Linked DNA regions of Homo sapiens. The protein of the gene in region 1 interacts with the protein of each later gene in a biochemical or structural test. Each region holds a gene or a part of one and is shown on either strand. Other genes may lie near its edges. The genes, in order: KIF15 and MKI67.

Region 1 (17,266 bases):
CATGTGGAAAAGAAGTAGTTCTTGACTTGTGAAGGATTTCGGTAGGGAGAGAGAAACAGGAAATGCATGCCTGGCAGGGGGGCATCTCAAGGGTTATTGTGGATGCAGAATGAGTGTAGCATTTGGCATTTCAGCATGGCTCAATGGATGGGTTGGTTAGAGAGGCAAGCAGGCCCGGATTATCAAGGACCAGGAGTGCCAGGCCAAGTTTGTATCAACTCTGCGAATACTGGGAAACACTTAACATTTCTTAGCAACTAAGTGATTCATGAAGAAAGCCTGTTTTATAGAAACTTAGTCATCTGACCCACTGCTGTTAAGATTTTAGAAGGGAGAGCCCACAGAAAAAGATGACCACTTACGCTGTTTAATATTTCAGGTATGAAGGGTTAAGTATCTAGTCCTAGGCTAAGGTATCAACAGTGGGACCAGAGGTTCTATGTAATATGTATTGTCAATATGTGTTTATATATATATATATATAGTAATACGAATTGTCAATAAAATATTTGTAGAGTCTATAGTTTAGAATATACATGGGCAAGGGGAGAGGAATTGGAAAGGATGAGGGAAGAGATCTACTTTTTTCATTAAAAGTGAGGATTTGAGTCGCCTGACCTACATTTGAGGCAGTTTCAGGCAATCTGAAGCTCATATTTTTTTGTTTTGAGACAGTCTCACTCTGTCACCCAGCTGGAGTGCAGTGGCATGATCTCGGCTTACTGCAACCTCTGCCTCTCTGGTTCAAGCAGTTCTTCTGCCTCAGCCTCCCAAGTAGCTGAGATTACAGGCGCCCACCACCACACCCAGCTAATATTTTGTATTTTTAATAGAGATGGGGTTTCACCATTTTGGCCAGGCTGGTCTTGAACTCCTGACCTCAGGTGATCCACCCTCCTTGGCCTCCCAAAGTGTTGGGATTACAGGCGTTAGCCACCACGCCCAGCCTAAAGCTCATATTTCTATTGAGATATGAGGCTTAATAAATATAGCATATGGGTTGAGCATGGTGGCTTATGCCTGTAATCCTAGCACCTGGGAGGCTGAGGTGGGAGGATCCCTCGAACCCAGGAGGTCGAGATTGCAGTGAGCTGTGATTGTGCCACTGTGCTCCAACCTGGGTGACAGAGTGAGACTCTGTGTCAAAAAAAGCATATGCTTATAATAGGACATATACCAAGTCTGTTCTAAAATGCTTTACATATATTAATTCATTTAACCTTCCCAACAACTCTGGGAAGTAGGTGCTATTCTTTCTATTTTACAGTTAAAGAAACCGAAGTCACACAGCTAATAAAGGTAGAGCTGAGATTCAAACCGAGCTGCTACAGTACTCTCAACCATGCCACTAACCACCTTTCTGATTTACTGAATGATAACAGCAGTGACTCTGAATTCAGTACATCTTGCATTATAATTTTGACTTTTTCTCTTTTTTGTATACTCCTTCCACTGCAGACCCAGTTTTCAAAATATGCTACCTACAGTAAAAATCTAATGTAACGTATTTAGCTCATTTTTTCCCCCCACCAAGCTTCTGTTTTAAAGTAGTTTTTATTATCCTTTACAGAATTAAACTGAATATTCTCCTCAAATAAGTTCATCAGTGGCTTTGGGGGCTGTATGGGTGAGTTATTAGGCATTATACCCTTAAATATTTTAGCATAAAAGGATTGAAAAAAGTACCTATTAATGCACTACTCTAGCTTTTTTTTCCCTATTTTTTTCTGGTCTTTATAGCTCGGTTTCAAACTATTACAATCATGAAGTGACATTAATATTTTTTTTCTTTGCATGATTTTTGTGTTTGTCTTTTTTTGTTGTTGTTTTTGAGAGAGGGTCTCACTCTGTCACCCAGGTTGTAGTGCAATGGCACAATCTCAGCTCACTGCAACCTCCACCTCCCAAGCTCAAGTGATCCTCCCACCTCAGCCTCCCAAGTAGCTGGGACTACAGGCATGTGCCACCATGCCCAGCAGTTTTTTGTATTTCTTTGTAGAGATGGGGTTTTGCCATGTTGCCCAGGCTGGTATCCAACTCCTGAGCTCAAGCAACCTGCCCACCTCGGCCTCCCAAAGTGCTGGGATGACTAGCATGAGCCACAGTGCCAGCCTGTGTTTGTCTTCTAATACTAAAATTACAGTGTACATCAAATAGGAAAAGGTTAGGGATAGTTCAGCACTTCTTTTTTATTTGTTGAATAGTTGTTCTTTATTAACATTGTCCCTGACTTGCCTTTTCATCCAGAATTTTCCTCTGCTAGATATATTTTCATTCAAAATACCAAAGAGTAACCAACGTACCTAAATTTTTGTTCTTTTCCGTCAACACTTTAGGAAGCAGGTAACATAAATCGATCATTGAGCTGCCTGGGCCAAGTGATTACAGCACTTGTCGACGTGGGTAATGGAAAACAGAGACATGTTTGCTACAGAGACTCCAAACTTACCTTCTTACTACGGGTAAAGTAGATCCTTGGGTTCCTGGGCTCCTTTTGGTTATGCTAAAGTTGATAGTGGGACAGTCTCTCAGCCTTGGTGGCAAGAGTATACATTTTCTTTGCTTAAAAAGGTCTTGTGATTTCTCACCGAAAATATGTTCATTCCTATCATTAAACAGGATTCCCTTGGAGGTAATGCCAAAACAGCCATAATTGCAAATGTTCATCCTGGATCCAGGTGTTTTGGGGAAACCCTATCAACACTTAACTTTGCTCAAAGAGCCAAGCTGATTAAAAACAAGGTAAAATACTGGCGTATACTTCATTAAATAAATGAGAAAAATACTAAAGCTTACAGTATGCCATTTTTGTGATTGCCCTAATATTAACATTAACTTTTATTTATTTCTCATTGTATGCAAAATTTCTATTTTATCTTTCCTACCCTTCTATATCACACATGTAATTAGAGACCTAGGTTAGATCTTATGGTTGTTATTGCTTGACTAGTTTTTTCTTTTTTTTTGAGACACAGTCTTGCTGTGTCACCCAGGCTGGAGTGCAGTGGTGCAAACACAGCTCACTCTAGCCTCAACTTCCTGGGCTCAAGCGATCCTCCTGCCTCAGCCTCCTGTGTAGCTGGAACTACAGGCATGCAGCACCATGCCAGGCTAATTTTTTTATTTTTTTAATTTTTATTTTATTTATTTTTTATTTATTTATTTTTTTGAGACAGAGTCTTGCTCTGTCACCCAGGCTAGAGTGCAGTGGTGCGATCTCTGCTCAGCTGGGACTACAGGCGCCCACCACCACGCCCGGCTAATTTTTTGTATTTTTTAGTAGAGACGGGATTTCACCGTGTTAGCCAGGATGATCTCGATCTCCTGACCTCGTGATCCGTCTGCCTTGGCCTTAATTTTTTTATTTTTTGTACAGGTAGGATCTCACTTTGTTGCCCAGGCTCGTCTCAAACTCCTAGGTTCAAGCAGTCCTCCTGCCTCATCCTTTCAAAGTGCTGGGATTACAGGTGTGAACCACTGTACCCAGCTGACAAATTTTTTCTTAAGGGAAAGCAAATTAAGTATGTGAGTCTTTCTTCCTGCCAACAGCCAATCAATCAGTTCTGCAGCAGACATCAGCTGAGTGTCTTCTGATTCAGTTCCATCCTGACACTTTATGTCTGGAGATAGGGTGAGATCTCACAGGTTCAGGGCTCAGTCCTACAAGACTGCGCCCAACTTCTGATGCCAATTGCAAGCCCCAGCTTGTCCTATCTGTGCTTTCAGACCAACTGGCTGTAAATCAGGAGGTCCATGTTGCCCCTTTCCCTGGGTAAATCAGAAGACTATAGATCTAGTCATTTATTTTATTTCCTTGGACTATGGAGTACTAGTAAGATGAGGAGGAAAAATCATTAGAGCTTCCTGACCCTAAGTCTCTTAAGATTTACTAGAAGTCTTTGGAGATATAGAACTGCAGCAATAATTAGAATTATGAAGTCACTGATGGGACAGTGATGTCAGAAGTGCAGTAGTACCTTGTAATGAGGCTGGCCATAAGAATCAGAAGCAACTGGAAATGGCTGCTTAACACACAAAAGAACAAAACCAAGAGCCTTCTACTAGTCACTCTCAATGGTAAGCCCTTTGCAGCCTATCAGTGGAAAGTGCCAGAGTATCTGGGACTTGTTTAAGGATGTGCTATTTAAATTTTTCCGTGAGCAAATTGGGCTTACAGCGAGAATACAGAAGACCTTGGGGCTGTCACAGGGTGTTTTTTCCTTGCTGGAGTACTGAGTATTTCACAACTGAGTCCTCTGACCTGGTTGGTACTCAGCTGTTGGCACTCGTTATCACCCTTTAGGCTTTGTGGACCTTTTTAAAGCTTTATTTTTTTAATTAATCAACTTTTTTTTTTTTTTTGAGATAGAGTCTCGCTCTGTCAACAGGCTGGAGTGCAGTGGCGCACATGTGTGACCTGCCCCACTCTTGACATCCTGCCCCACAGTGGCACATTTTGTTTGTGAGTCCTTTAGCCTTTTAGAAGTTGTCCTAAATAAGACATTTCTTTAAGAAAATGAAGATAATCATTTAGTGTGGTAAAAAATTAAAAAAAAAAAAAAAAAGGAAGTGTCAAACCAACCCCTCCTTCCAAGAGGGCTGTTAAAAAATAAAGGTCGGATTCCTCTGGAGAAGGTTGCTTCTGCCAAGCTCAAGCCCACCCTGCAAGTCATCATGCACTTAGAGGCTAGGCTCCTTCCCCGTAGGGAGCTAGGAAAGAAGGGAAATGATACTCACTGAGGTATTGGCTCTTCTCCATTGGGAGGGTGGGGGAAGGCTGTCGTTCTCAGGGAAAGAAGTATTAGGTGAACACACCCGGATCCTAAGGGTGACCCAGCCTAAAAGCTCAGGGCTAGTCAGCTGGGGGGCAGAGAGCCTGGCTGGGGCTGTCTCTCTCTGGCTCCAGGTCTGAAGGCACAAGAAAAGGAAGCTTCCTCCCCACTTGAGCACACTGTGATTCCTGTGTCCTTTTGACTATGATGTGGTCTTGAAGTTTTGTTTGATGTTCATCACTACAAATCATACCAAACAAATGTAAACACAGGACTATACTACTCAAAAAGCATTATTTTAATGCTTTTTAAAAAATTCCTGAACAGGCAGTAGTAAATGAAGACACCCAAGGAAATGTGAGCCAGCTCCAAGCTGAAGTGAAGAGGCTCAAAGAACAACTGGCGGAGCTTGCTTCAGGACAGACACCACCAGAAAGCTTCCTGACCAGAGGTAGGATGAGCACACAGTCCTTTATCTTGGGGAAGACTGTACAAATAATAGTTTAAGAGCCCTTGGTGATAGACACAACACAATAAGGCAACCCAAATTTTTCTGCAGGTATCTCTTTCTGCTTATTTCTCCTATATAGGAACATAGTGGTTTGTTTATAATCAGATACAGATACCATAGGCAGTGAGAAGGGGGAATTAAAATAATTTTGAATAATGTATAAGTGCTAAAAAGAGATTAATTTCATTTAGATCTACTTCTACGTAGCATATGTAATCTATATATGTTTACTATAGGATAAGAGAGACTTATTTTTCTTCAAAGAATAGCTAGTAGAGAATTAATTAACTGGAAATCCATAAAGGCAAGAGGGTGAATTATTAACAGATCTTAAGAGGTGCACAGCACCCTGGGACTCCTCTAATTTTTTAAAAAATCTACTTCTACTTCTGTTACACCATGTGTAATCTATTGTGCATATTAACTAAATAAAGAGAAACTTATTCTTTGAAGAACGACTAATATGTGGAATGGTTAATTTGAAATCCGTGATCTAGTGATGACGGTCTCATTGTTTTTTTTTTTTTTGAGACGCAGTCTCTCTTTGTCACCCAGGCTGGAGTGAAGCAGTGTGATCTCAGCTCACTGCAACCTCTACCTCCTGGGTTCAAGCGATTCTCCTGCCTCAGCCTCCTGAGTAGCTGTGACTACAGACCCACGCCACCATGCCCAGCTAATTTTTTTGTATTTTTAGTAGAGATCGGGGGCGGCGGGAGGGGGGGGTCTCACCATGTTGGCCAGGCTGGTCTCGAACTGCTGACCTCAAGAAAGATATCCGTCTGCTTCAGCCTCCTAAAGTGCTGGGATTACAGGCATGAGCCACTGTGCCCGGCCACAGTCTCATTCTTTTAGATTAGTTGAGAGCAATCAATTAAAGGCTATCTGTTCTCTTGGTTTTGCAATGTGATAAATATTTTTTTTCATCTTCCCTTTCTTATTGGATCAATTACAGACAAAAAGAAGACTAACTATATGGAGTATTTCCAGGAAGCAATGTTATTCTTTAAGAAATCTGAACAGGAAAAGAAGGTAGGAAATGGAATTAGTAATAAAGGAGATTCAAGATAGTTAGTTTTTTGCTGTGTGGTTTTTATTGCCTTACTAAGTGAAATAAATAATACCAAGTCAATAAAGTAATGGAAGGCTATGAAAAATCAAATTTTGCCTTTAAGATTAAATATGAAATTAGTATTTGTTGCTGGACTTACGAAAATTTAGGGAAGTCAAATTATTTTTCATGTTTAACCAAATTATGAATTTCTTTAAGTCTCTGATAGAAAAAGTTACCCAATTAGAAGACCTCACCCTCAAAAAGGAAAAATTTATTCAATCTAATAAAATGATTGTGAAATTCCGAGAGGATCAAATAATACGCTTGGAAAAGCTCCACAAGGAATCCCGGGGAGGTTTTCTGCCTGAGGAGCAGGATCGTTTGCTCTCAGAATTAAGGAATGAGATTCAAACTCTGCGAGAACAAGTGAGTATACGGCATCTATAATATTTCTAAAAATAAAAGAAGTTCAAAGCAAATCTAAGTTTGTCAGCAAGTACTTGTTCTTTAATACAATGGAAATTGTTTTAAGTGAATTCTTCTGACAGTGTGATTGCATAATTCCTTTACCTGTCTTTTTAAAATAGTTAAAGGGAAGAGAAGGGGAGAAGGAAGAAGTTGTGGTGACATTGCTACATAGTATGCTACTCTAGCAGGCCACGCAGAATTTCACCCAGTGGGCAGTTGTGGTTATCTGAGTCAGTAGGCTCTTTAGGGTTGTGCCTTTTAACGTTTTTGTTGTTTTTCCTTTTCCTTAGGGAGAATGGATAGGTCATACAGGTACATTGTGGGAAAACCCAAAATCTCTTATCAGCTTCTTGTTTATCTCTCTGGAGTTTTTAATGAATATTCAAACTAATATGGGTGGATATTTGTACTTTTGTTTCTCCTGTACACTTTTTTGCACTTCGCCTTTTTCAGTTAATCTTGGTTGACAAGATTAATTTGGTCCTTGTTCTTTTCAGTGTGTTGATTTAACTAGTCTCCTTTGCATGAAAAGCCTGCCACAATGTACACCCTTGTGCTTACCTCCTTAGGTGGGTGAACATTTCAAGGGTCTAGACTCCAACTGAGAATAGGAGAGTTACAGGACATGCATATTTTCAAACTGATCACAAATGCCAAGTTGCTTTCCATGGTGGTTGCAGAAGGGTACCACCAGTAGTGCATGTGCATACCTAGTTTTCTAATGGCTTTTTAGAGGAACTAATTCACTAAGGAAATGTTTGTAAATATATAATGCGTGTAATTCTTCTATGTCACAGATAGAGCACCACCCCAGAGTTGCAAAGTATGCTATGGAAAATCATTCCCTCAGGGAGGAGAATAGAAGACTGAGATTATTAGAGCCTGTGAAAAGAGCTCAAGAAATGGATGCCCAGACCATTGCAAAACTAGAAAAAGCTTTCTCTGAAATAAGTGGCATGGAGAAAAGTGACAAAAGTAAGAAATGATTGTTGTATATACGTGCCATGTAGGAAGGGGCTGTTTTAAAGAGCATTTTTAGTGCCTTGTGACTAGGGTCTTCATTTTAGCCTCCAGGCCTGCTATGCTAATGTCTTATACACATATTCTTTTATATTATAGAAAGGTATTTACTAAACTTTTCTTTTTCTCAAAAATCACAGAGCATAAACTACGTAAGCTAATAGATATAACGAGAAAATACTCATTGTATTTGTTTTATTGATAAAAAGATTGATTCAGATACTATGTTAAATTTTTACTAAATTTTCCTGTTTAAAGTATTTGAAATGAAAAGTCTTTAACTAATCAAACGTGAATAAAAATAGAGTTGAAATGTTTATCAATCTAATTAGTCCTGTGCAGTATAAGAGATATAGAAAGGTCAGACTCATAGCACAGTGTTTGGGTCCTGATGTTGTGTTTGGGTCCTGGTATTGTGGTTACCAATGTATGCAGTCTCTAGTTACATACTACTTTCATAAGTTTGCATACTATGTGAAAAGTGGTTTAGTTAATACTAAATCTGCCTTACAGTCTTGACAGCTGTTGGTGTTCATACCCTGGGATTTGGTAACAAAGTCTGTGTTTGCCCCAGTCTTAGAGTTAATATTTTCACGGTCTTTTATCATAGACTTGGCCTTGGTTTCCTTTTAGGTTGAAATTGAAAAAGTTCTAATGTTTTTATTCTGCATTCATAAAGAAGACTGTCTCTTTGCTTTTTAAAATTTCATTTTTTAAGCCTTCTTCCATTCTGTTATGACTGAATAGAATAATAAGAGTCACAGTAACTGGGTTGGGGAGAGACTTAAGATATTAGATGCAAAATTACTATCAGGTTTTCTGTTGTTTTTTTTGAGATGGAGTCTCACTCTGTCACCCAGGCTGTAGTGCAGTGGTGCGATCTCGGCTCACTGCAACCTCCACCTCCTGGATTCAAGCAATTCTCCTGCCTCAGGCTCCCTCCTGGGATTACAGTCACACACCACCACACCGAGCCAATTTTTGTATTTTTGGTAGAGATGGGGTTTCACCATGTTGGCCAGGCTGGTCTTGAACTTCTGGCTTCAAATGATCCACCCACTTCGGCCTCCCAAAGTGCTGGGATTACAGATGTGAGCCCCAACGCCTGACTTAGGTTTTCTGTTTTATTTAAACTACTTTTCCCTACAGTGCCCTTTATTTTGTTGGCCATTTTGTTGTGGCCTCCATAATACCTTGACTTACTCCCTTCAGAAGATACTAATGTCTGGATCTCATCAGTTTCTAAACATTGATCATTCTCTAAACAACTTTTACATGATCTTTTCCCACACTGAAACTCAGTGGACTCTCTTCAACATATTCAGTGTTCTAGGCATTTCCTGAAAATTAATATTTTCTACCTGATAGATGATACCGGGTTCTTACAACCTGCTGCCCTTGCTATTTGTTTCCTTTTCTAAATAATTCCTTGGCTGTTAACATTAGCTGCTAGCACTAATTCCTACAAGATTCACTGGCTGCTGTTTCTCTGTCTAGCATTAGGCGTGCCACACTTTCGTCATTGTTTGTTCTTTCTCCTAATGGGAAAGGTGTTGCCTTAACTACACTTCTCCATCCTGTGGCATCTGCTTCTTAAACATGACTTCTAATCCCCTTTGGCACACTGTGTCACATCCTGTGCCTTCTGCTGAGTTATAAGCTTTTGTATTTTAGGGCTCGCTTTCCAACCCATTTCTCACTTTTCCTCCTTGTGGCCCAAAATTGATACCTGACAGAGAACTTAGAAAATGTGTCCTGTTATTTTTGCTTGTCAAACACTGAAGTTGTAAAGCTAGGCATGGTGGCATGCACCTGTAGTCCCAACTATTTGGGAGGCTAAAGCAGGGGGTTCACTTGAGACCAGAATTTGGGGCTTTAGTACACTATGATCATGCTTGTGAATAGCCACTGCACTCTAGCCTGGGCAACATAGTGAGGCCCTGTCTCAGAAAAAAAAAAAAAAAGACTGAGATTGTTTTCTTATTAACAGATCAGCAAGGATTTTCACCTAAAGCTCAGAAAGAGCCATGTTTGTTTGCAAACACTGAGAAGTTAAAAGCACAACTCCTGCAAATTCAGACAGAGCTGAATAATTCAAAGCAAGAATATGAAGAATTCAAAGAACTTACTAGGTAAAGTCTAAATACACATGCATGCACACTTATTTTCTTTCAGTGTTCATTTGCTGTAGTGTTAATATCGATAATTCAATTGGGCATTTTACTTTAAATATTAAACTCTCATAGCAGCAACTACTTTGACATGAAGAGAAAGAGCATGCTTCTAGCTCTTTACTAATATATTCAATGAACTAGGTAATACAGGTGTTTTAAGCAGTTTTTTCCTGTTGAGAGTCTATTGAACTTGCATAGTAAATTATTTAAATTTAAATTTGATAATCAGAGTTGTTAAGACTTTTAGGAAGTATAGGTTTGTTAATATTCCTACTTGATTCTCACTATGTAAAAACAAAGATAAATCACATTCATATTATAACTAAGATCAATCTTACCCTAAAATATAAACAAATGTTTGGTTCAAAAATGACATATCACATATGGTATAATCATGGACTATTTGTTTGGGCTTTTGAATTTGAGCCCTACCATTTACTAGTTGAATCCCTTAAACAGTCTCTGAGCTGTAGTTTACTGAACTGGAGAATGATGGGAATAATCTGAGAGAATAGAGAATATCTCTGATTTAGAGATAACTATAAAGTTATGTGAGAGCATAAACTGTAAAGTATTCTATAAATGTTTGACATTACTTATTACCTGAAATACTCCGTTTTACAATATCTATTAGGAAAAGGCAGCTAGAATTGGAATCAGAGCTTCAGTCTTTGCAAAAAGCGAACCTTAATCTTGAAAACCTTTTGGAAGCAACAAAAGCCTGCAAGCGGCAAGAAGTTTCTCAGCTGAATAAAATTCATGCTGAAACACTTAAGGTAGGTCATCTGAACAATACCTCCACCTTAAATCAGTGCAATGTCATTTTATTAATAATGGAGAGAGTCTGCATGGTCTATCTCCAGATGCAGATGACATCCCATGCAGGTAATTAACACCGGTGTCACACTGGTCTTTGGGTTACTGCTAGCAATCCCACTGATGTATCCCCCCAGTGGTAGGGTGGGGTAGGAAAGAATTCAGCATTTGCAATCAAATTCGAATGTGCCATTAACTTTAGTCAGGGTTTCCTAACTTCTGAGCCTTATCTTTCTTTTCTCTAAATTGGAAATGAAGGTAATTTACTTGCAGAGTTTTAGAGTACTAAATGAGATAGATAAGCTGCCTGGTACCTTGTAGATATCAGTAAAATGGCAGCTATTACTACAATATAACATGTCCTCAAAGTTTTCAGTAGAATAGAAACCCTAATGGGCAAAGACCGCTAAGGGATCACAGGTGCCACTGGAAATAACATGAGAGGGTTTTGTCCTAAATAACCACATCCCTCATAAAAGAAAAAAAAATGTGTGAACAACTGAGAATGAGGAGAGAGAAAGGAAGTACACAAGGAAAACAAAAGGTTGAGGAGGTGATACTGATTTCAGCTTTTGTATCCAATTTTTTGAAGGTTAAAAAATTTTTTCCTTAGCTGGGTGTGGTGGTGCAGGCCTGTAGTCCCGGCTGTTTGGGAGGTTGAGGCAAGAGGATTGCTTGAGCCCAGGAATTCAAGTCCAGCTTGAATTCAAGTTCTTTTCTTTTCTTTTCTTTTTTTTAAGACAGAGTCTTGCTCTGTCGGCCAGGCTGGAGTGCAGTGGTGCAATCTCAGCTCACTGCAACCTCCGCCTCCCAGGTTCAAGCGATTCTCCTGCCTCAGCCTCCCGAGTAGCTGGGATTACAGGCGCCTGCCACCATGCCCGGATAATTTTTGTATTTTCAGTAGAGATGGGGTTTCGCCATGTTGGCCAGGCTGGTCTCGAACTCATGACCTCGTGATCTGCCTGCCTCGGCCTCCCAAAGTGCTAGGATTACAGGCAAGAGCCACTGCGCTGGCCTCAAGTTCTTTTCAATAAAAGAAAGAAATAGAGAAGACCGAAAACCTTTCCTTATATGTCTTAGAATATAAATAGATGTTTATTTATAATGATTATTTTTAGTAGTGGTGCTTTTTGTGTCACTTAATGGAAGACTACTTGTATTCATTTGAATAGGTAATTTATGTGACTGAAATTTCCTTTCTTTTCTTTTTTTTTTGAGACGGAGTTTTGCTCTTGTTGCCCAGGTTGGAGTGCAGTGGCACGATCTTGGCTCACTGCAACCTCTGCTTCCTGGGTTCAAGCGATTCTCCTGCCTCTGCCTCCCGAGTAGTTGGGATTCCAGGCGCCTGCCCCAACACCCAGCTGATTTTTGTATTTTTAGTAGAGACGAGGTTTCACCATGTTGGCCAGGCTAGTCTCGAACTCCTGACCTCAGGTGATCCGCCCGTCTCGCCTCCCAAAGTGCTGGGATTATAGGTGTGAGCCACCGCGCCCAGCCTGTGACTGAAATTTTCAAAGGCATTTAGTAGCAAATCTCTTTCCTTCTGTTGTTCTTCCAGCCAACCAAGAACTGGAGGCAATCAGTGTCACCAAGTCAATCAATGTCACCAAGTATTTTCTCACTTTACACAAATGGTGGCATAACATACACATCATTCTACAGCTTGAGGGTGTGTGTGTGTGTGTGTGTGTTTTAAAGCAATATTTTAGAGTTTGTCCCATGTCTGCAGGGGAAAAAATGTTCTCCCCCTTTTTGTTTCTGTTTTGATTTTTTATTTGTTTTGGCAGCAGCTCAAGAATGTTATGTGGATATATAATGATTTATTCAACCTGGAAAATGCTGGGTTTTTTCCTATACAGGTAGAAATTTAAAAATTATTTTTAAATTTTGATTTATTTTATTTATTTATTTTTGGTTTTGTTTTTTAGAGACAGAGTCTTGCTCTGTCACTCAGGCTGGAGTGCAGTGGCATGATCATGGCTCACTGCAGCCTTGAACTCCTGGCTTCAAGTGATCCTCCTGGAGCCTCAGCCTCCCAGAGCACTAGGATTACAGGTGTGAGCCACCATGCCTGACCAGAATTTTTTTTTACTGTTGCTTTTTAAAAAAGGTGGTCTTTGAAGTTTTTGTAAGAAATTATTGAAAAATACTTGCAGAATACTGCCAAATGTTTTATAATTCTGTGTCTGTAGCCCCTTAGCACAATGGAATTATAGAGCTTGAAGCACCACGGCATTCTCGTCCTACTTCTTCCTTTTATGACTGAGCAAACAGGACTCAGAGGATTAGGTTTGCCAGGAGGGGCATAGCAATTCAGAGTCTTTGTTGTTGTTTTAGTTGGACAACTACTATATGAATACATTCTCTTTGTTTAAAAGAAAGACACATATTTCAAGTTAAAGTTAAAATTCCTTTTCAGCATCACTTCCAATCTGGATCTAATATAATCCTTTGTCCCCACAATCCCTGGAGGTAGTTTAATCCTTTTTCTTAGCATTTTTGTACTGTTAATATATACAGACTGAGAAAACACATAGAGTTGTTTCCTAGATTGTGTATTGTTTTGCTTTTTTTTTTTTTTTTAAAAAAAAACGGTCATTCTTCATGTGTTATTCCACAATATGCTTTTGTTAACTCAGGGATATGCCTTAGATCTTTCCACATTAACTGGTACCTAGAGCCTCATTTGGATGTGAGGCTCAAGGAATATGAGCCTCATACCAGTTAACGTGAGGCTCAAGGGTTATGAGCCTCATACCAGTTAATGTGGAAAGATCCAAGGCATCTCCTTTGAGGGACAGAAGAATTATAGAGCTTGAATTATAGAGCTTGAAGCACCATGAGGGATATCCCCTTGGGGGATATGCCTTGGATCTTTCCATATTAACTGGTACCTACCTCATTTTAACCCTAGGTTTCTATGGCTTAAGTAGATGGTTTCCAGTGCGTGCATTCTCTGGGGGTGGATTCCGTTAAAGGAGAAGTGGTCATTTTAGGATGTCTTAGCATTTGAGTGAGTCAAGCTGAAGCTCCCTCCTAGTGCCCTGTTCCCGCAGCATAGATGCATAGATGCACTCCTTTCCCAGCACTGTCCGCAGGAACTGGGATTGTCATGCTTGTTAATGTTTGACCATCTGATGGGTAAAAAATGAGATCTTGTTGTTAAGGTTTTAATTCTCATTTCTCTAATTTCAAATATCTTTTCATATGTTCATGTCCATTTGTATATCCTATTCCCTGAAAAGAAAAACTATTGTTTTTTTATATTTTTCTTCAGATTTTGTTTTTATGTAATAAGCATTTGTTTGTTAGGTGTACTGCCAATATATTCCTCCATCATGTTGCTTGTCTTTCATCTTTGCATGTGATGCTTTTGTTATATAGAAGTTTTATATTTTTGATGTAGCCAGGTTTATTGACCTTTTATCTTTATGACTTTTTTGCCTTTAATTTTGCTTTACATTGAGGTGTTTGTGTATCCACTGTTTTTCTTTTGAATGGTATGAGAAAGGGATTTAACTTAAAAAAAGTAATACAGCTAGGCATAGTGGCTCACACCTGTAATCTTAACACTTGGGGAGGCAGAAGCAGGAGGATTGCTTGAATCTAGGAGTTCAAGACCAGCTTGGGCAACATAGTAAGACCCTACCTCTGCAAAAAAAAAAAAAATTTAAATTAGCCAAGCATGGTGGTGTGCACCTTTGGTCTCAACTACTCCTGATACCTAAAATTTCCACAGAAAGATTATTCTATTTCTGGGCGGGGTGTGGTGTCTCACGCCTGTAATTCTAGCACTTTGGGAGGCCAAAGCGGGCAGATCACTTGAGGCCAGGAGTTGGAGACCAGCCTGGCCAACATGGTGAAACCCCATCTCTACTAAAACTACAAAAATTAACCAGGCATGGTGGTGTGTGCCTGTAGTCCCAGCTACTTGGGAGGCTGAGGCAGGAGAATTGCTTGAACCTGGGAGGCAGAGGTTGTGGTGAGCCAAGATTACACCACTGCACTCCAGCCTGGGCAACAGAACAAGACTGTGTCTCAAAAAATAATAATAATTCTATTTCTGGACTTTGTATTTCCTCCCAGTGTTCTATTTGAATGTACATAAGCTAATGTACTGTTTTAATATAATGTACTGTAATGTAATGTACTATTTTAATGACCATACTCCCATACCCCTATGTATTTTTATATCAGATGGGGAAGTCTTCCTAATTTGTTCTTTTTATTTTTATTTTTTTGAGAGACAGGGTCTCAGTCTGTCACTCAGGCTGGAGTGCAATGGTGTGATAATAGCTCACTGCAACCTAGAACACCTGGGCTCTGGGGATCCTCCTGCCTCAGCTTCCCAAGTAGCTGGGACTACAGGCCTGGGACACCATGCCCAGCTAATTAAAATGATTTTTTTTTTTGGTAGAGACAGGATCTCACTATGTTGCCCAGCCTGGTCTTGGACTCCTGGCCTCAAGTGATCCTCCCCTTCTCAGCCTCCCACGGTGTTGGGATTATAGCCATGAACCACCATGCCTGGCTTGTTCTTTTTAATTGTCTTGTCTCTTCTTGTACATTTATTCTTTGTATGAAAATAGATATCAGCTCATTAAGTTTATTTTTAAAAATTGTATTAGAATTTTGCTTGGGACTGCATTGAATTGATAAATTTATTTCCACTTGGGCATTTTTGTACTGTGTCTCAAGGGTACTTTTTCCTTTCTTTTCATGAATAGTATTTCAATTTTATCCTCTCTATTCACAAAATTATTAAATATGCCCTTTTTAAATATGTGCTAATGTTTTCCATAATCATTTTTTGCTGCAGATTATAACTACACCAACCAAGGCCTACCAACTTCATTCCCGACCAGTACCAAAATTAAGCCCTGAAATGGGAAGCTTTGGCTCTCTATACACTCAGAATTCTAGCATATTAGATAATGATATATTAAATGAGCCAGTTCCTCCTGAGATGAATGAACAAGCTTTTGAGGCCATTTCTGAAGAGCTTAGAACAGTGCAGGTAATGTTTTGTTCTAGAAAAAATAAATAACTGGACATCCATTTAAATACATTTGCTTTGTTATTTTAATTCCCTATAAGTTACAGTGTTCAAAAGTGCTTAGTATTAAAATCATATCTTTTTAAGTGTGGGTTTATAATCATTCCTAGATTGGAAATCAGCCCACTCTTGCTTTTTGTCTCTACTTTACAATCTTTAGCAAGTCATTCTCCATGGGTTTTTGTTCCTTAGTGTATAAAATGACCAGTTGGCCACTAGCTCCAAGTTCCAGAACTGGTTTATATAGCAAAGTGCTGTATCTGCTAAAAAAAGTTAAAAGAGGCCGGGTGCGGTGGCTCACGCCTGTAATCCCAGCACTTTGGGAGGCTGAGGCAGGCATATCACGTGAGATCAAGAGTTTGAGACTAGCCTGACCAACATGGTGAAACCCCGTCTCTACTAAATAGACAAAATTAGCCGGGTGTGGTGGTACATGCCTGTAATCCCAGCTACTCGGGAGGCTGAGGCAGGAGAATTGCTTGAACCCGGGAGGCGGAGGTTGCAGTGAGCCGAGATCGCGCCACTGCACTCTAGCCTGGGCAACAAGAGTGAAACTCTGTCTCAAAAAAAAAGAAAGTTAAAAGAATCTTATTATAGATCAAATTTTAGACAGTTTTTAATATATTTGAAATAATGTGAAATTTGATTATTCCAGAATTTTTATGGTTTGTTAATTTTTTAAAAAGGTTTTCTACTGTCCAGTAAAAGTTGGAGTGGGCCAGACCACCCCAAACCCCAGTATTTTGTCCTTTCCAGGCCATGGAGGTAACCGCTTGCAGCCCTGAGGAAGCTTCTTAGAAGTCTCAAGATGGCTCTGTCATGTAATCCAGGATTTTAATTTTAATCACTTCTTTCCTTTGTATTTCAAAGTGTCTACTTTAATGGACCACAAGTGTAAATCTGAAACATTAGCAATCATTTAGTATATAACCTTTTGATGATGTTTTCTGGCTCCAAACAGGCCTTTGATACCTTTGTTCATATGAGGTTTTGAATTTGTTTTGTTTTGTTTTGTTGTCTCTTTAATGCAGACGAAATGGTGGAATGTTTGAGAATTCCATTAAAATAAATTTTGATGACTGAAGTTTTTGTGTTGCAGGAACAAATGAGTGCTCTTCAAGCCAAACTGGATGAAGAAGAGCATAAAAACCTAAAGCTTCAGCAGCATGTTGACAAACTGGAACATCATTCTACCCAAATGCAGGAGGTGAGACCAAGAGCACAGCCTCAGAAAATGTATGAAGTACCCTCAAATGTTACCTTGAGGAAACATCCTCAAGGATCCTCAAACATCCTTGAGTATGCATGAAACATATTCAGAGAGTATCACAGAAAGAAAATGTTGTCACATGGCCTTAGTGAAGGCTTATTTGAGCTGTATTCTCTACCTTGTTACTT
Region 2 (16,305 bases), on another chromosome or scaffold:
ATAATAATATATATTATATATACCATATAGTATATACTGTATACAGTATATACTATATGGTATATATAATACATATACAATATATATACAATATATTTATATTATATAATATATAATATATACATATATAATATGTAATATATATACACATATACAGATACACACACTCCCGTTAGATTCAAATCTATAATCTTAGTAAATTTTCCCCTACTATTATTCTAAGAGATATGTTCAAATCACCTACTGAGGATTGATTGATTGATTTGTTTTTATCTCTATCAGTTTTTGCTTTGTATATTTTGAGGCTGTACTATGGTGTACAAACTTAGAATGATGTCTTGGTGCATGGAACTCTGTCATTTAGAGATGTCCTCTGTTTTTAGTAGTGCTTTCTTTTCTGCTTAATGTTTCCTTTGGATGATGAGTATGGTTAAACTAATTTCCTTTTGATGAGTGCTTGTGTAGTATAACTTTTCCACCCCCTTAATTTTAACTTTTCATAATTGTTATGGTTTAAGTTGTCTCTTGGAACCTGTTGTCAGGTGACCTCTTGTGTTTAACTGGAATATCTTCTTGCTGGATTGATCCTTATATAAAATGTCCTTTTTCTCTATGAATAACTTTTGTCTGAGATGATTTTGTCTCATGTTAGTACAGTACTCCAGTTCCCCTCTGCTTGCTGTTTGCATGGTATATCTTTTCCCATGCTTTTATTTTAAAAGATTGTGTCTTTGAATCAAAATTGCGTCTCTTGTAGACAACGTATTAGTTGGGTCATTTAAAAATCCATTCTGCTAAATGAATCTCTGTTATTGTCTTCATTTGTATTAGCTGTTTTTTAATGCACCACTTAAATTCCCTAGTCATTTCTTTTACTGTGCTTCTGGGAAGTTTGCCTTCATTTTTAAAGAGTATTTTTATTGAATACAGACTTCTATGTAGGAAGTTTTTCTTTTTTTCTTTTTCTTTTTGTTTGTTTGTTTGTTTGTTTTTGAGACAGAGTCTTGCTCTGTCACCCAGGCTGGAGTGCAGTGGTGTGATCTTGGCTCACTGCAACCTCCGCCTCCCGGGTTCAAGTGATTCTCATGCCTCAGCCTACCAAGTAGCTGGGATTACAGGCACGCGCCACAACACCCGGCTAATTTTTGCAATTTTTAGTAGAGACGGCGTTTCACCATGATGGCCAGGCTGGTCTTGAACTCTTGGTCTCAAGTGATCCACCTGCTTCAGCCTCCCAAAATGCTGAGATTACAGGCATGAGCCACTGCGCCCGGCCTATAGGTAGGAAGCTTTTGATGTTTATTGGAGGGCTGAACTATTTTTCAAAACAAGATATTATCCAAATTGAGATAAATTCAGATGATTAAAGACATCCAACAAAGATTTGAAAGTGAATCTTAGAAAGAGAGACTTGATTCCAAACTCTCTACCATGAGAAATAATATCAGATGTGTGACTGCTTCAGATCTTACTTAGGTTGCCTATAAATTCAAATCAGGTCATTTCACTGAGGCCAAAAGTTTTCATTATGCAAAATAAAGGATTGCTTCTATGACTTGATCACTGAGGTTTGCCAGGACAATTATGTATCTTGCTAAAGGTGATCTTCTTAAGATGTACCTGTCTTGTTCAGATACAGACTGAATGTGTGGGAAACTGAAGTGATCATAGTGTTCTAAAATATAGGTTTGTAGTTACCCTGTAGTGTAAGTGTAGCTTTTTATTTACCCTGAAGTATGTAACTTCACAACGTGAGAAAGATTCAGTTACCTACAGGCTTCCTGGCTGGCCTTCCAAGCCATCCGATGATTTCCATGGACTTAAACTAGAAGAAACTTGACTTTGCTCTCATGTGCATTAGCTTATGTCATAGAAGGTGCTTGGTAATATTGTCAAATCATACCTGGGCTGTTCGTCAGTGATCAGAAGTTAATCTGGGTCCCCAGCCTCTGACAGTGGTATTTCAAAACAAACTCGATGCAACTAATCCTAGTTTTTAGTGTAAAAGCACTTTTCTAACTCTAAATTTATTTCTTTGTATAAGGTGATGTCTTGAACTAAACCCAAAGTTTGTTCGTTGATCCTTGGACATTAAGTGGATATGGAGACTTCCGCCCCAGGGTATAAATTTTTAATCAGGATCTTTGTCGTTCTATAAACTGCAGGTATGAAAATGAAAGTCTTCAGAATGGAAGGAAGTCAACTGAATTTCCAAGAAAAATACGTGAACAGGTGATAGAAAATATCCAAGTTTGGGCTGATTCGTTTCGATGATATGAAATCATTTATGTATGCTTTAATGATTTCTTACTTGAAATCAGTTACAAAGAGGGTGGTTACTGTTATAGTAGGAAAATGTAACTAAAGTATAAAAACGAGTTGAACTTAGACGTATTAAAATAATCTAAAATGATATTTCCTCTTTATTGTTCAAAATCAGAGCACTAAGTTGGTCTTACACTTTTAGCCAAAAAGTCTATTAGAGCATGTTGCGAGCTTTTTGCAAACCCATGATTAGGATAACCCCAACACGTAGAGCTAACATTTGGGAATTGCATTATCTGGTGGCTCATTTTGTCGCCCAGTCATTGTACTCATCCGTCTTTATGTGTCTGAAATAATCACATTATGAAAATCATGAGTGCCAAAGATGCTTCTCTATTTTGATAGATAGACGACCCATGAAACAGGAAAAGGGATCCTGTGCTTTGTCTTGTGAGAGAATCCTATAGTTTGAGTGTATCAGTGTGGAACAGGTATTCCAATTGTACAGCTTATGAAAACATAATTGTCGACACGTGCTTCGCAATTTAGATAGTTTGAGTATATCAGTGTGGAAGAGGTATTTTAGTTGTACAGCTTATTAAAACACAGTTGTCGGCATGTGCTTGGAAATTTAGTGGGATTTAGGCTTAGGATGAGCCCTGAGAATTCATATTTTTCCTACATTTTAGAGTGCTCCTAAAGCTAGTTTCAGATGAGCTCCTTGGAATATCTTGGCTTAGGAGAGTTATCTTAGGTGCACCTGAAATTAGCAGTAGGTACTCTTGAATTTCAACATTTCTGCCTTTTTTTTTTTTTTTTTTTCTGAGACGGAGTCTCACTCCGTCACCCAGGCTGGAGTGCAGTGGTGCGATCTTGGCTCACTGCAACCTCCGCCTCCTGGGTTCAAGCAATTCTCCTGCCTCAGCCTCCCGAGTAGCTGGGACTACAGGTGCACACCACCATGCCTGGCTAATTTTTGTATTTTTAGTAGAGACAGGGTTTCACCATATTGACCAGGCTGGTCTTGAACTCCTAACCTCGTGATCCACCCACCTGGGCCTCCCAAAGTGCTGGGATTACAGGCTTGAGCCACCATGCCCAGTCCATTTCTGCCATTTAAGTACTGCCTTCTTCCCTAGAGGAGCAGCCTTAATGTTGAATCTGATGGTCATCAGTTCCCGTGCTGGAAGCCAGTTTCTGAGGCATCCCACACTGTAGCCACCAGGCAACTTGCTAGTCTATGGGAGTAAATAAACCAAAAAGCCAGTTGAACTGTGGGTTAGATATGTGCCACTCAGCAGTCTAGGAACTGTTTGTTCTGTTACTGGTCTGTGATATAGTGAGTACTGAAATGGAGTATGTAGTAAATATGACAGCAATTCGACAGCAATTTTGTGGCTATTGAATGTAATCGTACAACAAAAGTGAGATTATATACTTTACATATTCATAATTTTATTAGTGGTTCATTTATATTGTTTAGTCATAAGATTCTTGTTCCACTTCAGATTGGAAATAAAAAACCATCCCTCACATAGATAGTTTTAGAAGCAAGGTGTTACGTATCAAGAAACCTAAAATTGATTAAGGAAGTTAGATTCTTTGCCTTTGTTAATATTTTTTAGATATTTTCTTAATAATCCAGATGATAAGCTTTTCTTCCTTTGGGGCATCAGACTTTTATAAAAGTTATATATATATGTTATTCTTTAGTTCTTCCACCCTTCCGGAAATAATTCCATATGAAGGAAAGTTAGGGCGCTGTCTCTGGGGAGCCAGGTGGGGGCGCTGCGCCTGCTCCCAGGCTGTGAGGTTGCAGAATCTGTGAATATACCATGTGTGCCTGTACCATGAATTTACCTAGGGTGAATCTAGGCTCTCAGATCCACCCTAAGTATCCACCAGCCAAGAGGGCGCACATGCCAAGTGGAGCCTCAGTTCATCGACAGGTCCTATGGCCCATTTATGAGAAAACTGATGACGCAGTCAGTAGTTCTGAGCTCGTGGGGGGTTACAGATCTTCAGTATAGGTGATGTTTAATATTGACTTTGGTTCTTCCGCAATAGGATGTTGGGAAATATCTTTAAAGGAAGTTATAAAAACACACCGAGGTTTGATTTTAGTAATTTTAAGCCTCGAATTTGTTTCCTATTAATCACTCACTATTTTTTAATGAGTCAGCTAATAAGTACTTTTATCCTGACCACTAGCTCCCAACTGACTTGAGCTCATTTCTCAAACAGTCTTTAAAAGTCATATACGAGTGGTTTGGTAAAGAAAACAATTTTTTATTGTTTTTATTTTTATTTTTTGAGACAGAGTCTCGCTTTATTGCCCAGGCTAGAGTGCAGTGGTGCAATCTCTGCTCACTGCAACCTCTGCCTCCCGGGTTCCAGCAATTCTCCTGCCTCGGCCACCTGAGTAGCTGGGACTACAGGCACCTGCCACCACATCCAGCTAATGTTTGTATTTGCAGTAGAGATGAGGTTACATCATGTTGGCCAGGCTGTTCTCAAACTCCTGACCTCAAGTGATCCGCCCACCTTGGCCTCCCAAAGTGCTGGGATTACAGGCATGAGCCATCATGCCCAGCCAGAAAACAATAAATAATATTTTCACTGTTGTGACTGTCATCATTTAGAAAGACCTGCAAATAACTGTTCTTATTTTCCCAACTTACAGGAGCCAGCACGTCGTGTCTCAAGATCTAGCTTCTCTTCTGACCCTGGTGAGTAGTGGTTGGGTTTTGTTCCAGAATCCTGAAAGATCAGGTCTTTGCGAAGCATATTGGCAAAGAAGGGGCAACAAGAATGCAAGTGCTAAATGTCTAGCCTGTCAGAAATGGAGGAGGTGTCATTTAACATGTCAACGACAGACAGATGCCTAACTTTCCCTTGGTGACTGATGGTATGCTATGCTTAGGAGAGACTCTAGATATGAGAAAATTGCCTGTTCAGCTGTCAACTCAGTTCTCAGTAGTTAGATAGCATGTGCTATTTCATACTGGTTATTGGAGCTGATATGATTTATATATTTGTATCATAATACTAGTATCATAAGACTTGCAAGTTTTAGGCATTAAATAATTTGTAGGCCAAGTAAAAGCTAGCTTATAAGACAACCTGAAACAATTAAAATATTGAATTCCACAAATGTTAATCATTGAGAAAATGCTGAACTTCTGTTTCTTATTTCATAATTCATTGCCAAGATGAGAAAGCTCAAGATTCCAAGGCCTATTCAAAAATCACTGAAGGAAAAGTTTCAGGAAATCCTCAGGTACATATCAAGAATGTCAAAGAAGACAGTACCGCAGATGACTCAAAAGACAGTGTTGCTCAGGGAACAACTAATGTTCATTCCTCAGAACATGCTGGACGTAATGGCAGAAATGCAGCTGATCCCATTTCTGGGGATTTTAAAGAAATTTCCAGCGTTAAATTAGTGAGCCGTTATGGAGAATTGAAGTCTGTTCCCACTACACAATGTCTTGACAATAGCAAAAAAAATGAATCTCCCTTTTGGAAGCTTTATGAGTCAGTGAAGAAAGAGTTGGATGTAAAATCACAAAAAGAAAATGTCCTACAGTATTGTAGAAAATCTGGATTACAAACTGATTACGCAACAGAGAAAGAAAGTGCTGATGGTTTACAGGGGGAGACCCAACTGTTGGTCTCGCGTAAGTCAAGACCAAAATCTGGTGGGAGCGGCCACGCTGTGGCAGAGCCTGCTTCACCTGAACAAGAGCTTGACCAGAACAAGGGGAAGGGAAGAGACGTGGAGTCTGTTCAGACTCCCAGCAAGGCTGTGGGCGCCAGCTTTCCTCTCTATGAGCCGGCTAAAATGAAGACCCCTGTACAATATTCACAGCAACAAAATTCTCCACAAAAACATAAGAACAAAGACCTGTATACTACTGGTAGAAGAGAATCTGTGAATCTGGGTAAAAGTGAAGGCTTCAAGGCTGGTGATAAAACTCTTACTCCCAGGAAGCTTTCAACTAGAAATCGAACACCAGCTAAAGTTGAAGATGCAGCTGACTCTGCCACTAAGCCAGAAAATCTCTCTTCCAAAACCAGAGGAAGTATTCCTACAGATGTGGAAGTTCTGCCTACGGAAACTGAAATTCACAATGAGCCATTTTTAACTCTGTGGCTCACTCAAGTTGAGAGGAAGATCCAAAAGGATTCCCTCAGCAAGCCTGAGAAATTGGGCACTACAGCTGGACAGATGTGCTCTGGGTTACCTGGTCTTAGTTCAGTTGATATCAACAACTTTGGTGATTCCATTAGTAAGTTTATTTAATTGTAAATTTATTTTTCTAAAAGATGAACACCTTCTATGTAGCTGTGAGACCTTCATTCTTTCAGTAGTGATTAGCTTTGTGGAAGAGAATGTAAGCACATAAGGCACAGGGATAAGACAGACACGCACGCTGTTTTCGCTAATAGATGAATACTGAAGGCCTAGGTAATTGTAACAAGGAATGACAGAAGAGATGGAAGTTGTCAGGCAATCATGAAGCAGGGGTTATTGAAGGAGATAGGGTGGCCCCAAAAATATTTGATTCTCCTCCATCTATCACAAAATAGAAAAGAGAATAATCATAATTGCTTTTCACATGGAGTTTAATTCTGAACTACAATCAACTGTATCATATGAGTTTGGTCATGTGGAATAAATCACTGGTAATCATTAAACATAGCGGTAGTTCTCAGGTGTTGATACTCTGTTTTCAGAGTGTCCTACAAACAATTTGCTGTAAACACTGGACTGTACCCATGAGTCCATATGCCACATGAACACTTGATCCTTGGTGCAATAGCAGTGCCCGTGGCTAGGTTGTCTTTTTAGAGCTATGTCACACATGAGGAAACGCACAACCCAAGGCCAGTCAGGAAGTGGCAGAGGTAGGACCTTTATAGCAGGTGTGGTAGCTCCTCGGGAGCTTCCTACACTCCTAGGGACTGGCTATTAGAAGAAAAGTTGTCTGGGCCACAGACGCAGTATTCGTACTCCAGGCTGTGTTTCTGCAGGTGGCCTATAGCGGTGGGGCATGAGGCTGTCGATAAAATAAGGTTTGTAACATCAGTCTCAGTATTCCACCAAGCTTCCTAGTGGGGAAGCATCACTTAGGCAAGGGATTTACATTAACTGGTGGCTCAGGAAAATGTGTGGCCGGGACTGGGCTCCTGTGAATTGACTCAGAACCACCTGGAGGAGTTTTTACAGCTCATGCATTCTGGTCACTGGGTGGCTCAGGCTGAGACCCAAGTGCATGTCTTTAGAGAGTTCTCTGGCTGTCGTCCCCCTACTCTAAGGTGAAATCTGCTGCTGCAGACTCCTCCTTTCTATGTCCACACATAATGTTTCAATGTTTTAAAGAAAGCCTCTGTACTGTCCAGTGGCAACTTGACGTCTTAGTGGCCACTCCCGCAATCCTTTAGGAACTCTTAGTAGCTTAGCTTCACCAGGATTGCAAGAATAGAGGCGTGCTGTAGGTACTGTGTTTCGATGACTTTTCACTTGGTTTGTCTTTAATGCTAACGTGAAATAAATCACTAGTCTTGGTATGTTTTTTCATTGCTCTTTCCACATTTGTATCCGTTACTTTAGATGAGAGTGAGGGAATACCTTTGAAAAGAAGGCGTGTGTCCTTTGGTGGGCACCTAAGACCTGAACTATTTGATGAAAACTTGCCTCCTAATACGCCTCTCAAAAGGGGAGAAGCCCCAACCAAAAGAAAGTCTCTGGTAATGCACACTCCACCTGTCCTGAAGAAAATCATCAAGGTGAGTTGAACAAGCAGCATCCCATTCACGCCCAGTGGCTCACACACCGGGTACCTATTCCTTTCCAAATACTGACACAAGTAGAATTATGATGAAGACCTTTATTTATTTATTAAAGAAACAAGTTTTTAAAAAGACGAATGAAAGCTCATTGATGTGGGCACCAGCAAAGGAGCCCCTGGGTCCCTGACCGTGGTGCTGATGCGACCGAGTCGGGGGAGTCCTTGATGTTGTCCTTTTCGTGCAGAAGTTCCCAGACACCCACGCTTACAGCACTGCGTAATCACCTGCAGGCACCGTCAGAATAGCCAATTACAAAGATTCTGGATACATTACCACGTCGACCCATAAGGATTGTTTTATTTTCTTTTAGAGTTACAAGGCTATAGTTAAGGCATTTACCTGGTGTGAAGGAAAATCAATGGCACATCTTCCTTTTACACCTTCAGCTCTTTAGAATATTTGCTTGCCTGTTCCTTTGCTGTGTTGTCCTTCCTGGGTTTCACACCTCTGGGAAGTCATGGCCCTATAGCTCATAACCTTTGTAATAGGGCCTGGGCGGTCTTTCTTTCCTTCTCTTCCCAGCAGGAGTGGAAAGTGATGTCTGGCTCCCTTTCCATTTTACACTGGCTCCCAGGGGCAAGCAGTCCTCCCTCCATGTGGACTGCCGGGGGCTGGGTGCTCACAGCTGGTATTTACTGGGACTGAGATCAGACCCTGCTTGTCTTTCACTGATCAGGATGTTCCTTCCACCTTTTTACCTGAAATGACCTCACTTCAGACTTGGCTTGCTTCTCTTTCCTTTTCCTTAAATGACTGAGACAGTCTCACCTCTACCATAGTCTTCAAAGACAGTGGCTTAAGCATTTGATGCTTCAAGATTTAAACAGCTGAAATTCTTAACTGAATAGGTTTTTATCAGTCATTCCAGAGATGTTAGATCCTTGTTAAGGCTTCTTGTAAACAATTTTGTCTTGTCAGGAACAGCCTCAACCATCAGGAAAACAAGAGTCAGGTTCAGAAATCCATGTGGAAGTGAAGGCACAAAGCTTGGTTATAAGCCCTCCAGCTCCTAGTCCTAGGAAAACTCCAGTTGCCAGTGATCAACGCCGTAGGTCCTGCAAAACAGCCCCTGCTTCCAGCAGCAAATCTCAGACAGAGGTTCCTAAGAGAGGAGGGAGAAAGAGTGGCAACCTGCCTTCAAAGAGAGTGTCTATCAGCCGAAGTCAACATGATATTTTACAGATGATATGTTCCAAAAGAAGAAGTGGTGCTTCGGAAGCAAATCTGATTGGTTAGTCTGACATTAGAATACATATATTAAGGTGAATTTTTTCATGAATGCTAATTTTTGAAAAGTTTCGTCTTTTCCCTTTGACAGTTGCAAAATCATGGGCAGATGTAGTAAAACTTGGTGCAAAACAAACACAAACTAAAGTCATAAAACATGGTCCTCAAAGGTCAATGAACAAAAGGCAAAGAAGACCTGCTACTCCAAAGGTAGGGGCCTCACTGAATGGCTGCTTTACACATACCGGTGTCATCGAAGCTTGCATTCAGTGTGGATTTATGCTTTAATGTCCTGTTTACCTCCTTCCTGTTTTCTACAGAAGCCTGTGGGCGAAGTTCACAGTCAATTTAGTACAGGCCACGCAAACTCTCCTTGTACCATAATAATAGGGAAAGCTCATACTGAAAAAGTACATGTGCCTGCTCGACCCTACAGAGTGCTCAACAACTTCATTTCCAACCAAAAAATGGACTTTAAGGAAGATCTTTCAGGTAAAAACGTAGTCTTAGATCTTATAAATCTTTTGACTCTACTGTTTTTTACTGTGTTAATGTTTGTTTTGCTAACTTTGTTTATCTGCTGTGAAAGAGATTATAAAATAAACGACTCAATCACCCTTCTGGGGTCTTAGTGTTCAGGGAAGATAAAGCTGTTTTGGCTTGCAAAGACAAGTCTCTGCTAATTTTTGGGATCACATGTCCTGCATGAAATAGGTGTGGAAATGTCAAATGCATGTCTTTACCCTGGAGAGCAGCGTATACATAGAAAGCTGGAAGGTGCTTTACAGTGAAGAGAGTTAACTTGTTAATCTGCAGGTACAATAATAGTTTATCCCAGGTGTGGGCCAGTTGTTGTTGAGCAACATTTTGCTTCTTCAGGATTGACTTTCTAGGTAGCTTAACTTTCTTGAAAGAAAGCCCTATGAGAAGATTCCCATAAACGATTGTTGAAGAAATATTTCCATTCAATTCCCACTCTCAGTAAATTGTGGCCTGACTTGTGTAATTTAAAGTGGGGATGGCCGGCGCAGTGGCTCACGCCTGTAATCCCAACACTTTGGGAGGCTGAGGCCTCCTATCATTCCAAACAGAATGATAATGATATTAGATTTTCAAAAATATATATTATTACTTGACAGTACTAAAAATGGGCAGCTCTTTGTCATTTTCTAAAATGTGGGTACGTGTTATTTGTACTTAAAATCTAGAACTGAGCACCCAAGACTTTGAGAAGCATGAAGGCATTTGGCCTCTAGATCCTAGCAGGGAGGCCTATGGGTCTCAGGAGCCCGTCACCAGCCTCCGTGCTCCAGAGCTCACGTGTGGGGTCTTGTTAGGAGGACCCAGAGGTCAGCTAACTTCATTTGTTTCCTTTCCAAGAAAAGCAAAGCGAAGAGCATAACATATCTTCTCTGTGCTCTCTTTTTTACAAAATGAGTACATTATTAATGGAATCACTCTTTTTATGAGGCCTATGTACCAGGATTTCAAGGGAGGAATCTACTGTTATTTCCCACCATTTGCACGTTACATGTGAGGGCTGGGATGGTTGTCTGCATGTTAGCAATATGTCAATCACTTTTCAAATATTTTCATTTAACAGGAATAGCTGAAATGTTCAAGACCCCAGTGAAGGAGCAACCGCAGTTGACAAGCACATGTCACATCGCTATTTCAAATTCAGAGAATTTGCTTGGAAAACAGTTTCAAGGAACTGATTCAGGAGAAGAACCTCTGCTCCCCACCTCAGAGAGTTTTGGTTGGTTTCCTTGTTTCCTAACACTGTGATGTTTTGGGATAGGAACATACAGTATTATTTTTTTACAAGCAGTATGATATTACTTCTCTAAAACAAATGTTCCTGGCACAAAATACCATTTCCGTCTTCTCTGTTCTAATTGAAAGGGAGATTTCAATCAGCAGTTGAACTAACATTGGCATTCATTGACTTATATAGAAAGAAAGACTCCGTTAATGTGTGTAAATGACCTGTGTACACTTTTGGCTTCTTTATTGTAAGTAACCAGGGTGACATAGCAAAAAAATACAATGGTGTCTCACCATATTTACATATAAATTACTCATATTCAAAATTACTGCCAATTACAAAACAGAAAGATAACAGTTTGTATACTGTGCAATTATTCCTGCTAACCTTTTAGGTGGGAGCAGGCCCGGGGTAAGTGTGAGATGGGAGATGAGAATCTGTCTAATCTCTCATTTGGCACTGGTCACTGTATTCCTGTCACAGAGGGAACAGCTTGCTACCCTGAAGATGTTTGCGGTAGGTAAATATTTCCTGTGTAATATGGACCCTAACCACATAAGGATAATCCATGTTATTTTATTGGCGATTTAAGGCAAGAAACAGCTGTTTGTTTCTAATGTTTGAAGGAAAAAATGCCTATATTTACGTCAATGACACAGGGCATGGCAACCTTTGGAGGAACCTTCTGAAGCAGTATTTTTACCTTCTATGATCATTTCAGCATCTAACTTTGCTTAATGATGACCCCACTATAGCACCAAATAACATTATTCTTAATTGTGCATGGCTCTTATAAGACAGATTTATAGACACATAAGTAGCCTCATGTCGTTCAGTGAATACGAAGCTAAATATTTAGTTTTTTACCATATTTTATGAGGCTGTAATACTCGATTGACATGAGACACTAATAGAATGTTTTTATTGTGTATGTTTTTATTTCAGGAGGAAATGTGTTCTTCAGTGCACAGAATGCAGCAAAACAGCCATCTGATAAATGCTCTGCAAGCCCTCCCTTAAGACGGCAGTGTATTAGAGAAAATGGAAACGTAGCAAAAACGCCCAGGAACACCTACAAAATGACTTCTCTGGAGACAAAAACTTCAGATACTGAGACAGAGCCTTCAAAAACAGTATCCACTGCAAACAGGTCAGGAAGGTCTACAGAGTTCAGGAATATACAGAAGCTACCTGTGGAAAGTAAGAGTGAAGAAACAAATACAGAAATTGTTGAGTGCATCCTAAAAAGAGGTCAGAAGGCAACACTACTACAACAAAGGAGAGAAGGAGAGATGAAGGAAATAGAAAGACCTTTTGAGACATATAAGGAAAATATTGAATTAAAAGAAAACGATGAAAAGATGAAAGCAATGAAGAGATCAAGAACTTGGGGGCAGAAATGTGCACCAATGTCTGACCTGACAGACCTCAAGAGCTTGCCTGATACAGAACTCATGAAAGACACGGCACGTGGCCAGAATCTCCTCCAAACCCAAGATCATGCCAAGGCACCAAAGAGTGAGAAAGGCAAAATCACTAAAATGCCCTGCCAGTCATTACAACCAGAACCAATAAACACCCCAACACACACAAAACAACAGTTGAAGGCATCCCTGGGGAAAGTAGGTGTGAAAGAAGAGCTCCTAGCAGTCGGCAAGTTCACACGGACGTCAGGGGAGACCACGCACACGCACAGAGAGCCAGCAGGAGATGGCAAGAGCATCAGAACGTTTAAGGAGTCTCCAAAGCAGATCCTGGACCCAGCAGCCCGTGTAACTGGAATGAAGAAGTGGCCAAGAACGCCTAAGGAAGAGGCCCAGTCACTAGAAGACCTGGCTGGCTTCAAAGAGCTCTTCCAGACACCAGGTCCCTCTGAGGAATCAATGACTGATGAGAAAACTACCAAAATAGCCTGCAAATCTCCACCACCAGAATCAGTGGACACTCCAACAAGCACAAAGCAATGGCCTAAGAGAAGTCTCAGGAAAGCAGATGTAGAGGAAGAATTCTTAGCACTCAGGAAACTAACACCATCAGCAGGGAAAGCCATGCTTACGCCCAAACCAGCAGGAGGTGATGAGAAAGACATTAAAGCATTTATGGGAACTCCAGTGCAGAAACTGGACCTGGCAGGAACTTTACCTGGCAGCAAAAGACAGCTACAGACTCCTAAGGAAAAGGCCCAGGCTCTAGAAGACCTGGCTGGCTTTAAAGAGCTCTTCCAGACTCCTGGTCACACCGAGGAATTAGTGGCTGCTGGTAAAACCACTAAAATACCCTGCGACTCTCCACAGTCAGACCCAGTGGACACCCCAACAAGCACAAAGCAACGACCCAAGAGAAGTATCAGGAAAGCAGATGTAGAGGGAGAACTCTTAGCGTGCAGGAATCTAATGCCATCAGCAGGCAAAGCCATGCACACGCCTAAACCATCAGTAGGTGAAGAGAAAGACATCATCATATTTGTGGGAACTCCAGTGCAGAAACTGGACCTGACAGAGAACTTAACCGGCAGCAAGAGACGGCCACAAACTCCTAAGGAAGAGGCCCAGGCTCTGGAAGACCTGACTGGCTTTAAAGAGCTCTTCCAGACCCCTGGTCATACTGAAGAAGCAGTGGCTGCTGGCAAAACTACTAAAATGCCCTGCGAATCTTCTCCACCAGAATCAGCAGACACCCCAACAAGCACAAGAAGGCAGCCCAAGACACCTTTGGAGAAAAGGGACGTACAGAAGGAGCTCTCAGCCCTGAAGAAGCTCACACAGACATCAGGGGAAACCACACACACAGATAAAGTACCAGGAGGTGAGGATAAAAGCATCAACGCGTTTAGGGAAACTGCAAAACAGAAACTGGACCCAGCAGCAAGTGTAACTGGTAGCAAGAGGCACCCAAAAACTAAGGAAAAGGCCCAACCCCTAGAAGACCTGGCTGGCTTGAAAGAGCTCTTCCAGACACCAGTATGCACTGACAAGCCCACGACTCACGAGAAAACTACCAAAATAGCCTGCAGATCACAACCAGACCCAGTGGACACACCAACAAGCTCCAAGCCACAGTCCAAGAGAAGTCTCAGGAAAGTGGACGTAGAAGAAGAATTCTTCGCACTCAGGAAACGAACACCATCAGCAGGCAAAGCCATGCACACACCCAAACCAGCAGTAAGTGGTGAGAAAAACATCTACGCATTTATGGGAACTCCAGTGCAGAAACTGGACCTGACAGAGAACTTAACTGGCAGCAAGAGACGGCTACAAACTCCTAAGGAAAAGGCCCAGGCTCTAGAAGACCTGGCTGGCTTTAAAGAGCTCTTCCAGACACGAGGTCACACTGAGGAATCAATGACTAACGATAAAACTGCCAAAGTAGCCTGCAAATCTTCACAACCAGACCCAGACAAAAACCCAGCAAGCTCCAAGCGACGGCTCAAGACATCCCTGGGGAAAGTGGGCGTGAAAGAAGAGCTCCTAGCAGTTGGCAAGCTCACACAGACATCAGGAGAGACTACACACACACACACAGAGCCAACAGGAGATGGTAAGAGCATGAAAGCATTTATGGAGTCTCCAAAGCAGATCTTAGACTCAGCAGCAAGTCTAACTGGCAGCAAGAGGCAGCTGAGAACTCCTAAGGGAAAGTCTGAAGTCCCTGAAGACCTGGCCGGCTTCATCGAGCTCTTCCAGACACCAAGTCACACTAAGGAATCAATGACTAACGAAAAAACTACCAAAGTATCCTACAGAGCTTCACAGCCAGACCTAGTGGACACCCCAACAAGCTCCAAGCCACAGCCCAAGAGAAGTCTCAGGAAAGCAGACACTGAAGAAGAATTTTTAGCATTTAGGAAACAAACGCCATCAGCAGGCAAAGCCATGCACACACCCAAACCAGCAGTAGGTGAAGAGAAAGACATCAACACGTTTTTGGGAACTCCAGTGCAGAAACTGGACCAGCCAGGAAATTTACCTGGCAGCAATAGACGGCTACAAACTCGTAAGGAAAAGGCCCAGGCTCTAGAAGAACTGACTGGCTTCAGAGAGCTTTTCCAGACACCATGCACTGATAACCCCACGACTGATGAGAAAACTACCAAAAAAATACTCTGCAAATCTCCGCAATCAGACCCAGCGGACACCCCAACAAACACAAAGCAACGGCCCAAGAGAAGCCTCAAGAAAGCAGACGTAGAGGAAGAATTTTTAGCATTCAGGAAACTAACACCATCAGCAGGCAAAGCCATGCACACGCCTAAAGCAGCAGTAGGTGAAGAGAAAGACATCAACACATTTGTGGGGACTCCAGTGGAGAAACTGGACCTGCTAGGAAATTTACCTGGCAGCAAGAGACGGCCACAAACTCCTAAAGAAAAGGCCAAGGCTCTAGAAGATCTGGCTGGCTTCAAAGAGCTCTTCCAGACACCAGGTCACACTGAGGAATCAATGACCGATGACAAAATCACAGAAGTATCCTGCAAATCTCCACAACCAGACCCAGTCAAAACCCCAACAAGCTCCAAGCAACGACTCAAGATATCCTTGGGGAAAGTAGGTGTGAAAGAAGAGGTCCTACCAGTCGGCAAGCTCACACAGACGTCAGGGAAGACCACACAGACACACAGAGAGACAGCAGGAGATGGAAAGAGCATCAAAGCGTTTAAGGAATCTGCAAAGCAGATGCTGGACCCAGCAAACTATGGAACTGGGATGGAGAGGTGGCCAAGAACACCTAAGGAAGAGGCCCAATCACTAGAAGACCTGGCCGGCTTCAAAGAGCTCTTCCAGACACCAGACCACACTGAGGAATCAACAACTGATGACAAAACTACCAAAATAGCCTGCAAATCTCCACCACCAGAATCAATGGACACTCCAACAAGCACAAGGAGGCGGCCCAAAACACCTTTGGGGAAAAGGGATATAGTGGAAGAGCTCTCAGCCCTGAAGCAGCTCACACAGACCACACACACAGACAAAGTACCAGGAGATGAGGATAAAGGCATCAACGTGTTCAGGGAAACTGCAAAACAGAAACTGGACCCAGCAGCAAGTGTAACTGGTAGCAAGAGGCAGCCAAGAACTCCTAAGGGAAAAGCCCAACCCCTAGAAGACTTGGCTGGCTTGAAAGAGCTCTTCCAGACACCAATATGCACTGACAAGCCCACGACTCATGAGAAAACTACCAAAATAGCC

Evidence for each region.
Region 2: the proteins of KIF15 (region 1) and MKI67 form a complex in vitro, tested with the Homo sapiens proteins (one study listed by IntAct).

The regions. Positions count from the first base shown.
Region 1 is NC_000003.12:44,795,215-44,812,480, forward strand, and holds part of KIF15 (kinesin-like protein KIF15), read left to right. Parts: intron 1-2,336; coding exon 2,337-2,462; intron 2,463-2,619; coding exon 2,620-2,742; intron 2,743-3,980; exon of another isoform or gene 3,981-4,074; coding exon of another isoform or gene 4,075-4,077; intron 4,078-5,099; coding exon 5,100-5,223; intron 5,224-6,235; coding exon 6,236-6,312; intron 6,313-6,550; coding exon 6,551-6,760; intron 6,761-7,599; coding exon 7,600-7,777; intron 7,778-9,812; coding exon 9,813-9,954; intron 9,955-10,630; coding exon 10,631-10,772; intron 10,773-12,602; coding exon of another isoform or gene 12,603-12,671; intron 12,672-15,631; coding exon 15,632-15,829; intron 15,830-16,967; coding exon 16,968-17,075; intron 17,076-17,266. UniProt on the Homo sapiens protein: Plus-end directed kinesin-like motor enzyme involved in mitotic spindle assembly.
Region 2 is NC_000010.11:128,105,180-128,121,484, reverse strand, and holds part of MKI67 (proliferation marker protein Ki-67), read left to right. Parts: intron 1-2,165; coding exon 2,166-2,232; intron 2,233-4,948; coding exon 4,949-4,994; intron 4,995-5,477; coding exon 5,478-6,557; intron 6,558-7,882; coding exon 7,883-8,058; intron 8,059-9,039; coding exon 9,040-9,352; intron 9,353-9,439; coding exon 9,440-9,558; intron 9,559-9,668; coding exon 9,669-9,840; intron 9,841-10,951; coding exon 10,952-11,107; exon of another isoform or gene 11,108-11,538; coding exon of another isoform or gene 11,539-11,632; intron 11,633-12,061; coding exon 12,062-16,305. UniProt on the Homo sapiens protein: Protein that associates with the surface of mitotic chromosomes and acts both as a chromosome repellent during early mitosis and chromosome attractant during late mitosis.